Linked DNA regions of Homo sapiens: region 1 is linked to region 2. The links come from fine-mapping of genetic effects on gene expression. Tissue or cell type: whole blood. Region 2 holds a variant in brackets; the other region holds the start of a gene. All regions are shown on one strand. Distances are from middle to middle.

Region 1 (6,765 bases), 39 kb before region 2:
TTTGGTATCATTGGTTGATGGAATACAGGCTGACTTTTCCTTCTGGCATGATCTCAGCTCACTGCAACCACCACCTCCCCAGTTCAAGTGATTCTCCTGCCTCAGCCACCTGAATAGCTGGGACTACAGATGTGCACCACCATGCCCAGCTAATTTTTGTATTTTTAGTAGAGATGGGGTTTTACCATGTTGGCTAGGCTGGTGTCAAACTCCTGACCTCCAGTGATCCACCGCCTCAGCCTCCCAAAGTGCTGGGATTACAAGCATGAGCCACCACACCCAGCCAAGAGTTCACAACTTTTCATTGTTGGTCTGATGGTAGCAAGTGTCCACTCTGTCCAGAGAGGACATGTCAGGTGCAGTGGCTTACACCTGTAATCCCAGCACTTTGAAACACTGAAGTGGATCATTCGCGCCCAGAAGTTTGAATGTTAGCCAGGCATGGTGGCATGCACCTGTAGCCCTAGCTACTTGGGAGGCTCAGGCAGGAGGATCACTTGAGCCCAGGAGTTTAAGGTTATGATCACACCACTAGACTGCAGCCTGGGCGACAGAGTGAAACCCCCAACTCTTAAAAAGAAAAAAGAGAGAACATAAGTGCTAGCCTGGCCAAGGGATGATCCCCAAGCCCATGTCTTCCAGGCCAGAAAGGGGAATTCTAACAGGTTGGGAAGATGCACTGAGAGATGCATGTGTCTGGCCTCTAGGCAAACCCAAGAAAACCCACATCCTCCTTCACCTGCAGGAAGAGTGAAGGAGTTCTTCACCAAGGCCTGAAACCTCAGATTTCCAGAATTACTTCTGGAAAGTTTCTAACAACAACCTTGGGTGCTGAGAGACATTTTTTAAATCTTGGCAGTTTGATATAGGTAAATCTATTGCTGGTGCATTGGACTTACAACAAAACATCCTGGAAACCTAATGAGTCTATACAGCAAAGGGATTATCACATCCACTACATTCTAGAATGCCTGACCAATGATGAATGAAGTTGAATAGATAGTAAAGGATTTCTAGCTTGAATCTTTGTTGTAATAAGAGCAGAACAATACCATAATAGTTGTCACACCTGTATTTTTGCTTTCTTCAAAAATAGCAATAATTATATAGTAGTTGGATGGTTCTTCAAGCATTCTATAGGTTTTTATTACACATTTTTTTTAGATGGGATGACTCTATCACCCAGGCTGGAGGGCAGTGGCACAATTACAACTCACTGTAGCCTCAACCTCCAGGTCTCAAGTGTTCCTCCTGCCTCAGCCTCCTAGGTAGCTGAGATGACAGGCACATGCCACCATACCTGGCTAATTTTTGCATTTTTTGTAGAGATGGGTTTTCACCATGTTGCCCAGGCTGGTCTTGAACTCCTGGGCTCAAGCAATCCACCTGCCTCAGCCTCCCAAAGTGCCAGGATTACAGGCATGAGTCACCGTGCCTGGCCTATCATTTCTTGGAGGAGAGTTTTAACAGATATAGAATTCATGGTTGCCGGTTTGTTTGTTTTCTTTCAGCACTTTATATCATCCCACTGCCTTCTGGCTCCCATGGTAATAGATTGGCTGTTAATCTTATTCAAGTTCCTTTGTATGTAGTGATCATTTCTGTCTAGCTGCTTTTAAGCTTCTCTCTGTCTTTGGCTTTCAACAGTTTGATTATTAATATAACTCTATTGTGGACTTTTTGAGTTTATCATACTTGAAGTTCATGGAGCTTCTCTGAAGTGTTACATTATGTATTTTAACAAATTGGGGACTTTGGAGCCACTGTTTCTTCAGATACTCTTCCTGCCACCTTCACCCTCATCTTTCTTTCTGGGACCCCCTTTATGCATATGCTGATACACTTGATGGTGTCCACAAATCTTTTGGACTTTGATCTTCATTCTTCTACTTTCTGCTCCTCAGAGTTAATAATTTCAACAGTTTTATCTTCGAGTTTGCTCATTCCTTCTCTTACCTGCTCAAATCTACTCTGGAGCATCACTTGTGTATTTTTCATTTAAGTTATTGTATTTTTTTCTTTTTCTTTTCTTCTTCTTTTTTTTTTTTTTGAGACAAGATATTGCTCTGTCACCCAGGCTGGAGTGCAGGAGTGTGATCTTAGCTCACTGCAGCCATGAACTTCTTGGCTCAAGTGATCCTCCTGCCTTAGCCTCCTGAGTAGCTAGGGCCACAGGCATGCACCACCATGCCCGGTTAATTTTGTAATTTTTTTGTAGAGAGGGGATCTCCCTATGTTGCCAAGGCAAACTCTTGGTCTCAAGCGATCCTCCCGCCTTGGCCTCCCAAGACACTAGGATTACAGGCATGAACCACCATGCCTGGTCCTATTGTACTTTTTAACTACACAATTTCTTTTTGGTTCTTTTCAGTTCCAAAATGTGTTTGGTTCCTTTTATAATTTCTATCTCTTTATTAATATTCCTTATTTGTTTTTTAAATAATTTCAACTTTTATTTTAGATTCAGAGGGTACATGTGCAGGCTTGTTACCTACATATAATTCGTGGTGCTGAGGTTTGGGGTATGACTGAGCCCCTCACCCGGGGACTGAGCATAGTACCCAATAGTTTTTCAACCCTTGCCCCTCCCCCTCCCTCCCTGTCTAGTTGTCCCCAGTGTCTATTGTTGCCATCTTTATATCCATGAGTACCCAGTGTTTAGCTCCCACTTACAAATTAGAACATGTGGTATTTGGTTTTCTGTTCCTTCATTAATTCACTTACGACAATGGCCTCCAGTTGCAGTCACGTTGCTGTGAAGGACATGATTCCATTCATTCTTTTTATGGCTTCGTAGTATTCCATGGTGCAAATGTACCACATTTTCTTTATCCAGTCCATTGTCGATGAGCACCTAAGTTCATTCCATGTCTTTCCTATTGTGAAGCGTGCTGTGACGAACATACTAGTGCATGTGTCTTTTTGGTAGAATGAGTTCTCTTGTTTTGAATATGTACCCAGTAATGGGATAGCTGGGTTGAATAGCAGTTCTGTTTTCAGCACTTTGAGAAATCTTCAAACTGGTTTCCACAGTGGTTCAACTAATTTACATTCCCACTGACAGTGTATAAGCATTTCCTTTTCAATAAAGCCTTGCCAGCATCTGTTGTTCCTTGACTTTTTAATAATAACCATTCTGACTGGTGTAAGATGGTATCTCATTGCAGTTTTAATTTGCACTTTTCTGATAATTAGTTATGCTGGGCTTTTTTTCATGCTTGTTGACCATTTGCACATCTTCTATTGCATATTCTCTATTTATTGAGACTTTGTTCTCCTGGTTGTTTCTTTCAGTTATTTTTCTATGTTTCCTTTCACTTTTTGTCCATGTTTAAGACAGTTTATTTGAAGTATTTGTCTAATAATTCCTATGTCTGTGCTTCCTCAGCTCAGGGACAATTTCTGTTCATTTCTTTTTTCCTTTGAATTGGCCATTTTTTCGCCTTTTTTTTTGCATGCCTCATAATTTTTTGTTGAAGATTGGACATTTTGAGCATTACGATGTGGTAACTCTAGGAATCAGTCTCTCTCCTCCCCCAGAATCTCTTGTTGTTTCTTAGACAACCCTATAGAGTAGGTTGTAATGATGAAACTTGGTAAATTACCTTGTCCCCAGCCCCCTTGGTAATAAATTGTGGAGTCAGGATTCAACCCCATACCCTTTCCACTGTATTCTCTACTCTATCCTTTCTATTCTCATTTTATTCAGTATCCTAAAAATCTGAATCTTCCCCATTGCTTTATTCCCATTTCAGTGAATCTCAGATCTGTATCTCCAGCCCCCTGCCTCTCTTGAATGGCAGATAAATATATTTCCAACTAGTTACACTGTCACGAATTTCAAACGCAGGAAGGCTTAAAGTAAATTTATTATCTCACTCTCCTGTTTCCACGAACTTTCCCGAAATTTTCTTCTTTCCCGGCCTTGTGAATCCCTTCCATTTCTCAGTTAAAGGACAGCACCATCCACCCACCTCTCTCAAAGCCGAGCTTTGTATTAATCCTCATTGACAAAATCCCTCCTGAAATATGAAACTGAAAGCCCTGAACCCTCCGGCTGATCTTGGAAGAGAAACCCCGCCAGAGGCCGGGGACCCGCTCCCCACCTGGCGGACCCGATTCCGGGCGCGTTCCGGCTATCGTCCCTGCTTGGGACGCTGCGCCCGCCTGGTGCGGGGCGGGGTTCCGGCGCAGTGGCGCCCGCCCAGCCCCGGGGGCAGGGAGAGCCTAGATTACGGAAGTACCGCGAGCAAGGAGCGCGGAATCGGGGAGCGTCCGGAGCTAGCTGGATCCTCTAGGCAGGTGCGTGGGCGCTGCGGGGTGGGGGGCTGCAAAGGTCCCTGTAGTCCTAGCCAGGAAGTGGCCCGCGTACTACTTTCCCGCCAGTGGCTGCACCCTTGCCCTGCGCGGCGTTGGCGCTGTGGGCCTGACGGCGCTGCTAGGCTCGGGAGTGGACTAGCTAGTGCAGCCAGCGCCCTCGGGGAGGGATATTGCGGTCGTTCCGCTCTGCCCCGCGGCGCAGCCCTGGTGACGAGAAACCGGGTGCGGTGGGGGGCGCCCACCGGAGCCGACAGTCACACCAAGTCTCCGCACCCCGTGCGGTGCGGTTCGCAGTAGCACGCGTTGTTTCTTGTTTCCAGTATGCCAAACGGCCTTCTTTCCTAAAGTTAGGTTTCGAATTGTGCAAAAAGTAAGGTGGTTTGGTGAGTAATCAGGAAGTACTATCTGACCTCGTGAGTCATTGGGAACACCGTGATAGAAACAATGTGTTTGTTGAGGTCCAAAGTTGAAAACCTCTAACTCAGTTAAGTAATTCCTGCTAGGAGGGCCGAATGGTTCACCCAGGGATCGAGTTGGTAGATCACAGGTTCTAGAAAACTAAGGCGCTGCTAAATATTCAAGCCCAAGCACTTTCAATTCTGGACTGCTGGATGACAACAATTATATGACAATATCCAAGCATAGTGCTATGATAAAGGGGAAGTTCGCTCTGAGATGTGCGTGTTGCAGACTCATTACATCTGACTTTATCATTTATTAAGTAAACATTAGGTCTTGTTTGTGTGCGTAGAGCTACTGTATATCATGTAGGAGTGAAATAAAAGTAGTACCTTTGTTGTTTAAGGGTTTAATAAACCCATTAGGGAGGTGCATTACTGATGCCATTTGAGTCCAAAATGCAAATAGTGTCAGAAGGCTTTTCTGTAATCCTGGGCTTTAATGGATACGTGAGAGTTTTTAGTAAGCAAGCTTTTATTGAATGCCCACTGTATATCAAAAGTGATCTTAGCGTGTGCTGACTCACACACTTCGGAAGGCGGAGGCTGTAGAATCAAGACTGCCCAGAAAGGGACTCCTCAGGGTTTTCCGAGAGGAGGAAATGCCAGTGGTAAAGACGAAGACCTGTGAAGCAGGAAGCCACTTGATTCCACCTACACCAATGGTTTATGGAGCAGCCAAGAGTTTGTGAGGAGGCGCGCTGAGGGTTTCTTAGGAATCGGGGCTGTTCCCTGCTGTCTTTGGGTGGAAGACACTCTGTGAATGTTATTTGGGGAAGAAGCTGGGAAGGGGGACAGGCTGGAGTGACTGTGCAGATTTGCCTTAGAGAATAACCAGCCCCTAGCCCAGTGTCCGCCACATCTCATATGTACGTAATCAGCGCTGATGAAAACATGAACTAACTCTGTGTTTAGAGAACACTTTGAAACAAGGAAGAACTAGTGGCGCATGTCGGTTAGGCGCTGTTAACCCAGAAGAGGGCTGGCATTTTACAGAGACTAGAGATGAATCTGTGGAAAGAGAGAAGTCAAGACCTGACTTGAGATTTCACGAAACCCAAAGTGCGCCTTTCCATACCTCCCACGCAGCCGCAGGTGCTAAGAACAGACCGCAGATTTATGTTTAAAATGTTTTTACTCTGGGCCGGGCGTGGCAGCTCACACCTGTAACCCCAGCACTCTGGGAGGCTGAGGCAGGAGGATGGCTTGAGCCCAGGAGTTTGTGACCAGCCTTGGCAACATAGTAAGAACCCTGTCTCTACCAAAATTAGCTGGGCATGGTGGTGCAGGCCTGTGGTCCCAGCTACTAAGTAGGCCGGGTGAAAGGATTGCTGGGAGGGAGGTCGAGGTTGCAGTGAGCTGTGACAGTGACCACACCACTGCACTCCAGCTTGGGAGACAGAGCCAGACCCTGTCTCAAATAAAATAAAATGTTTATACTTTGATTTCACAACTATGTGTATGTACTTAATGCCACTGAACTGTACACACAGTTTTAAAAACTGTACCACAATTTTTAAAAGGCTAAAAAATGTTTATACTCCTTGATTCAGTAATTCCATTTCTGGCCATCAACTCTAGGGAAACTATGACAGAGATGTGGCAAAAAAATATATGTACAAGCATTTTAATTAAAGTGTATTTCTAATAGTGAACACTTTTTTTTTTTTTTTTTTGAGACGGAGTCTCGCTCTGTCGCCCAGGCTGGAGTGCAGTGGCGGGATCTCCGCTCACTGCAAGCTCCGCCTCCCGGGTTCACGCCATTCCCCTGCCTCAGCCTCCCAAGTAGCTGGGACTACAGGCACCCGCCACTACGCCCGGCTAATTTTTTGTATTTTTAGTAGAGACGGGGTTTCACCGTTTTAGCCGGGATGGCCTCGATCTCCTGACCTCGTGATCCGCCCGCCTCGGCCTCCCAAAATGCTGGGATTACAGGTGTGAGCCACCGCGCCCGGCCAATAGTGAACACTTTTAAGTAACCAAGTAT
Region 2 (6,765 bases):
AATAAGTGCATAATAAAGTTCTAAATTGAGTCTTTGGAGATATTTCAATAATAGGAAAATTTAGAACAGTTTACCAGGAAAGTCTTTTCAATAGTATGTTATTGACAAGTCACTCTAAGCTGTAAATATGTGTTTATTTCCTTTCGCATGTAGTACAAGTATCAAGTACTCACACCCGGGAGAGACAGATGGCACCAGACTCCTGCTCATTTGTGACGTAGCCCTCGGAAAGTGTATGGACTTACATGAGAAGGACTTTTCCTTAACTGAAGCACCACCAGGCTACGACAGTGTGCATGGAGTTTCGCAAACAGCCTCTGTCACCACAGACTTTGAGGTATTTTTATTTCAAGGAAGAAGCAAAGAGGGTCTTGAATGCTCAAAGAAAGGCCTTAGTTTTTTGCTCCTATTTTCATTAAATATGCTTAAGTTTAAATAATTGTTATATATTTACTGCATGAATTAATTCAACATTTTCTAAATTAGCAAACATGCTTTTATGAAAACATCTGCCAATACAGGTTTTTTGTTGCTTCTGTTGTTAATCACCTACTGATTTCTGTTTGCTCTAGGATGATGAATTTGTTGTCTATAAAACCAATCAGGTTAAAATGAAATATATTATTAAATTTTCCATGCCTGGAGATCAGATAAAGGACTTTCATCCTAGTGATCATACTGAATTAGAGGAATACAGACCTGAGTTTTCAAATTTTTCAAAGGTTGAAGGTAGGACAATTTTCTTGAATGCTGTTTTATGTTATTATATTTATAGACCTCAAATGTTATATTTTCAATGGAATGTATATTTGCATTTGTTATATCTATGACCTCATCCATAAGTATTTCATTTCCTTTCAATCTCAAAATTGTTTCCCACAAATTTCTCTCAGTGTTAACATCAGTCAAACCCCTCTGCCTAGTATCAAAATAAAGCACTTAATTTTAAAATATATATATTTCTTTTTTTTTGAGACAGGGTCTCACTCTGTCCCCCAGGCTGGAGTACAGTGTGTGATCAAAGTGCACTGCAGCCTCAAACTCCTGGGTTTCAAATGATCCTCCTGACTCAGCCTCCTGAGTAGCTAGGACTACCATCCGTGACTTTTTTTTTTAGAGACAAATTCTCACTATGTTGCTTAGGCTGGCCTGAAATTCCTGGCATTAAGCGATCCTCCTGCCTTGGTATCCCAAAATGCTGGGATTACAGATATGAGCCACCATGGCCAGCCTCATTTCCTTTTTTATCTTGCGTACATAACAACTAGGATGATTGAGAAATTCCATGTGACTTCATTAACACACTGAAGTTGAGCTTATTCGCTTCAGGAATAGCCAAGGCTAAAACCTGTGGAACCTTGCTAAGATGTCATGGTGCAGAAAGTGTAATGGGGTGGGGAGAGCAGACAGCAGAGCCGCTGTAGAGCCAGGAAGCCCAGGGTTTGAGTGTCGCCCTGCCACCTTGCAGTTTTGAAACTGCATGACCTTTTGCGCTCCACCTTCTCTCCGATGGGAATGAGAGCAGTACCCGCATGACAGAATTGCTGTAAGGGCTGAAGGGGAAATTGAAGGCACTGAGTAAATTGCCATGTGTGGTGCGTGTGTTAGCCATAGTAGTGCGAGCATACAAGAGGATATTCACTTCTCAGAGTATCATGAGGCCAAACAATTACAGTATTAATTAGTAGGACTGTAAGAACACATTAACATTTTTGACCATGCTCAAATTATTTTTTGTCAGAAACGCATGAGTTCATGTGTGTTCAGGGGTGACTCCAGTTTTTTCTCTGGGAGTCATTAAGTGAAATATCTGGCAAGACAATATGTATTTATATTTCCTAACCTTATCTGTATGTTTGTGCCACTTAGAATAGGATGTGTACATTTTTCAATATGCTGCCATAGGAGTTGATTCAGTCTTCCTTGGATTGAAAATCTACGTTGTTTGATGCCATCCCAAAATGCTTGTGTGGCACCATAAATAATAGTGACCGAGCCCTTCCACACTATAAGCCAGGGAATGCAGACACCTGGATTCAGGCTTCAGCCACACTTCAGACAGTCTGAAGACCTCTGTGTATTTGTGTGTATGTTTAAATGTATGTCAAGTAATGCTGTGTTTTCAGGAGGACACCCCACAGTCTCTACATTAAAAAGGCAGAAGAGCACATGTCTGTAGTCGCAGCTACTCGAGAGGCTAAGGCAGGAGGATTACTTGAGCACAGGAGTTCAAAACCAGCCTGGGCAACATAGTGAAACTCCAATCTCTACCAAAGAAAAAAAAAAGAAAAGAAGAAAAAAAAATTTAAGCTGAAGGGTCTTTAAAAAACAAAAAAAAAGGCAGGCCAGGTGTAGTGTCTCACGCCCATAGTCCCAGCACTTTGGGAGGTCAAGGCAGGTAGATCCCTTGAGTCCAGGAGTTCAAGACCAGCCTGGACAACATGGCTAAACCTCATCTCTACAAAAAATACCAAAAAATTAGCTGGGCATTGTGGTGCATGCCTATAGTCCCAGCTACTCGGGAGGCTGAGACAGGAGGATCACCTGAGCCAGAGAGGAGGGGTCTACTGTGAGCAGAGATTGTGCCACTGCACTCCCACTTGGGTGACAGAGTGACATGCTATCTCAAAAAAAAAAAGGCAGAAGGCACCTCTCATTTTTCTCATGTGGGTTCACTTGCTTTTCAGAATTGGCTATTGAAAATCATAAAATGCTATTTGCCCATTTTCCCTAAAATAAAATGCATGAAGGCTTGAAGAAGGAATAAAGATCAAGATAACAAAAATAGACAGGGATGGTTTTGAAAGCTAATAGTAACATTTTTAACGTTTAGATTACCAGTTACCAGATGCCAAAACTTCCAGCAGCACCAAGGCCGGCCTCCAGGATGCCTCTGGGAACTTGGTTCCTCTGGAGGATGTCCACATCAAAGGGAGAATCATAGACACTGTAGCCCAGGTATGTTGTCTGTGGCTTTATGACACTTAAACTACATGGATGTAAACCATACATGAGAATTTGATTGCAGTTGCATGAACTGAAGGGAATAGATAGATTTCTAAAATGTATTTTATTCAAGAGATATTCACTGAGCACTCCATGCCAGGGACTAGCTAGGCTCTGAGCATCCAGCAGTGCACAATACAAAAGCTCTGCCCTTGTGGAGCACACACTGTGTGGGGGAGTAGGCAATAATCATGATGAAAGAGTGAAACACATAACATGTTAGGTGGTGACAGGTGCTAAAGAGAAAAAGGAAAGCAGGAGGAGCTGCTTTCACAGATAGGAGCTGTGAAAGACAGGGGCTTTGAACCTGTAAACAGAATGGCCATGGAGGCCTCCCTGAGAAGGTGACATCTGCATA[C/A]AGACCTGAAGGAAGTGGGGGCTAAACTGTGTGGACGTCAGGGGATGCTTATTCCAGGCAGCGGGAACATCACATGCCAAGGCTCAGAGGTAGGAAGGAGGCTGATCTGGCCCAGGCGCGCCAAGGAGATGCACTGTGGCTGCAGTGGGGTGGAAAGGGGAGAGTGCATGGGGACTGAGTCAGAGAGGTGAGGGGCTCTCACATCAGTACACAGGTCATGCTGTCCTTGACTCTGAGTGAAATGGAAGCTTCTAGATGTTTGGCAGAGGAATGACATGAACAGACCTGTTTTAACCAGCTCACTCTGGCCACCATGTTGGGAACAGTAGGAAGAGGCCCAGTGGGAGAAATGTTAGGTCAAGTTCCCTAGAAAGCAGACTCTGGATGGAATTTGTTTTCAGGAAGCCTGTGGGACTGTGCCTGCGGGAGCCGCACCTGTGAGGGAGTGAGGGAGGCAGGACGTGGCCGAGGAGACAACAGAGTCCTCAGATGATCTTGGGGGAAGCTCTGGGCCAGAGTGGTCCTTGAGAGAAGGTCTGAATCAAGGCAAGGGGGCCGGGCTTTGTAGCCCCACTGGGGCCAGTCCTGGGATGTGGGCTGCTCCGGGGAGGGGTCAGAACCTTGGCTAAGGCAGTTTGTCTTTGGCTGAGGATGGTTCCTGGGGAGGCGCCCCACAGGTGACACTCCTAGCAGTCTCAGCCCTGAAGGGGACACAGCAGGCCCAACGTCACATCACATAGAGGAGACGATTGACAATTCAGTTAAGGGACCTGGTGATGTGGAGAAGAAGGTTTGCAGTGGGGGTGTAGGAAGTGATGGAGTCCGCCAAGGCCTGAGAGCAGAGCCAATCAGATTTGCTGGTGGGGACGGGACACAAGAGAAAGACAGCGGCCCAGGAAGACAGCAGAGTGTTTGCCCTGAATAACTAGAAGGATCATGTTTGCACTTACTAGAATGGTCAAAGTCACAGGAGGGCAGGTTGGGGGCCATCAGGAGTTTATCTTTGGCCACGTAGGTCTTGTGACTACATAGGACCAGGGAGGAGACCCAAGTTGGACTTATAAGTGGGGAGTCAGCAGCATTCACATAGTGTTTAAAGTCATGAGCCCAGATTAAACACCCAGAGAATCAGTAGAGCACAGAGGCCAACGTGGAGACGTAGGGGAGGAGGCTGAGTCAGCCACAGAGACCAGGAGGGAGCGGCTGTGGAGACACACGAGGACAGCTGAACAGGGAGGGGAGGCTGGTGGGTCTCATGAATAACAACCCAGCCCTGATCACTGGATTTAGCAATGAGATTGTTGGTGACCTTTGCCTTTTGATGGTGTGGTGGGGGTGAAAGGCTGATCAGAGTGAGTTCAAGAGGGAATGGGAGGAAGAACTGGGAGACAGAGGAGAGAAGATGAGACAGCAGCTGAAGAGAAGTGGGGTTGAGTATTTTCTTTCTCATTTTAAGATGCAAGAAACAACAGCATGTGTGGGAGTCAGCGCAGGAGGGAAACCTGGCGACCTGGGAGAGGGGAATTGCTGGAACTGCTTCCTTCTCTATACCCTTCTCTATGTTTTATTGCATAAATAGGAAACATTGTTGAAAAGACTTTCCTGGTAAACTGTTCTGAATTTTACGTTTATCGAAATATCTCCAAAGACTCAATTTAGAACTTTATTATGCCCTTATTTATTTAACATTTCTTTGTAACAAACATGTATATTGCCCTTATGTTGTGCCAGGCAGTGCTCAAAGCACTTTCTTCCCAGAGAGAGATGAATTCTACTGTTCTCCCAAACCTTTGTTAGCTACTAAAATATACACATTTTGCTATCATAAATACCAGGGTGGTGGCCGGTGCGGTGGTTCATGCCTGTAATCCCAGGACGTTGGGAGGGAGGCTGAGGTAGGAGGATTGCTTCAGCTCAGGAGTTCCAGACCAGCCTGGGGAACATGGAGAAACCCCATCTCTACAAAAATTGGCTGAGCGCAGTGGCGTACACCTGTAGTCCCATCTACTTGGGAGGTCGAGATGGGAGGATGGCTTGCCATTACTAGAATGGGCAAAGTCACAGGAGGGCAGGTTGGAGGAGGCAGAGGTTGCAATGAGCCAAGATCGCACCACTGCACTCCAACCTGGGTGATAGAGTGAGACCCTGTCTCAAAAAAAAAAAAAAAAAAAAAACTCAGGGTGTTGAAAGAGAAGGAGAAAATCCCACCTTATTAAATTATCTGCACTGAAGCTCAGAAAGAGCATTAAATACCAAGTGAGTAAGAACTGGTCAAAGCAAAAGACAAGCATCACAGGAGGGTTATCTAATGCGGGTGCTGGGGCCGCAGCCAGGAGCTCGCAGCAGGTTCATCATCCACAGTCACAGGATGGAAGGCAGCGTTTCAGGGGTGCCAAGTGGCCAGATGCAGTGGTAGAGCTTGGAAAGTTAAGTTTTTGGTTTTCTAAAATTGAATTGGTTTGCTAAGATTTGGCCTCATGATCAGCTTCTGACTCTGAAGATTGCATTGAACAACCATAAAGGCCTTTGAGGAGATTAAGAACGTTCAAGTACAGTGCCATGATGTTCTGATCCCTGTAGAGGAAAATTAGTTCCATTTCAGTGATCACCTTAATCTGGGGAGACGGGGCGTTGGGTGAGAAGAGCAGTTTGGATATAGCTGACCTCCACCCCTGGGCCCACTCTGACCCATACACACATCCTCAAGGCAGCTCAGAGCAACGTCATAGACTTTGAAAAGACCCAGCTGTGGGCTCATGGGACATGTTCCATTTCCACCAATCCCTTTGGCACCACTTAGGATCTGTAAACATAATGGTTACCATTTCCTAAGAGTCAGGCCCTCAGCCGAGTTTTCCACATGCAGTACTTAATTCTCTCAGACTCCATGCCAAGTGCTATAATTATGCCCATTGTTTGGAAGAAGAAGCTGAGGCCCAGAGACAAACAATATGATAAAGCCCAAATTTGAACTCAGATCATTCTGATTCCAGCGTCCAGATTCTTAACCAGTACACCATAGTGCAGCATGGTAGATCATACAAAGCAAAGGATCCGGAGTTTGTAAGGCTTAGCTTTGAATTCTTGTTTATTCTTTCTAGTGCTGTGAGTTTGGGAAAGTTACTTAACTCTTTTGCCTCGTTTTCCTCATGTGTAAAATGGAAATAATAATATCTGCCCATCAGTGTAGTGGCTATTCAATCTAATAAATATAAAGGACTTAGGGCATTGTTTTTGTGTGCAAAACAAATTATGACGAGGTTACAGGGAGAGGCGTGTGTCCTCCATGCCTTACTTGGGATTAGATGACTTGTACCATTTGATATTTCAAACCCGAAGAGGCCTGTTCCCTGGGGAAGTTTGCCCCAAAATAACTCGATTTAGCAGTGAATTTCTCACTC

Evidence for each region. PIP is the estimated chance that this variant, and not a neighbour inherited with it, causes the effect.
Region 1: PARP4 starts here. The variant in region 2 is fine-mapped to the expression of PARP4 in whole blood (INTERVAL, PIP above 0.99).

What each region holds. Positions count from the first base shown.
Region 1 is chr13:24,510,243-24,517,007 of GRCh38, reverse strand. PARP4 (poly(ADP-ribose) polymerase family member 4) reads left to right here and starts at 4,230. Exons shown (of 34, transcript NM_006437.4): 1 at 4,230-4,302. The region is part of intron 1 of LOC105370117 (a long non-coding RNA gene); the gene reads right to left. RefSeq lists a silencer at 4,073-4,232.
Region 2 is chr13:24,471,665-24,478,429 of GRCh38, reverse strand. PARP4 (poly(ADP-ribose) polymerase family member 4) reads left to right here. Exons shown (of 34, transcript NM_006437.4): 13 at 154-337; 14 at 573-729; 15 at 2,834-2,958. Among named protein-coding and RNA genes, the nearest start is that of PARP4, 38 kb to the left of the region's middle. The variant C/A (reference allele first, on the strand shown) is at 3,365.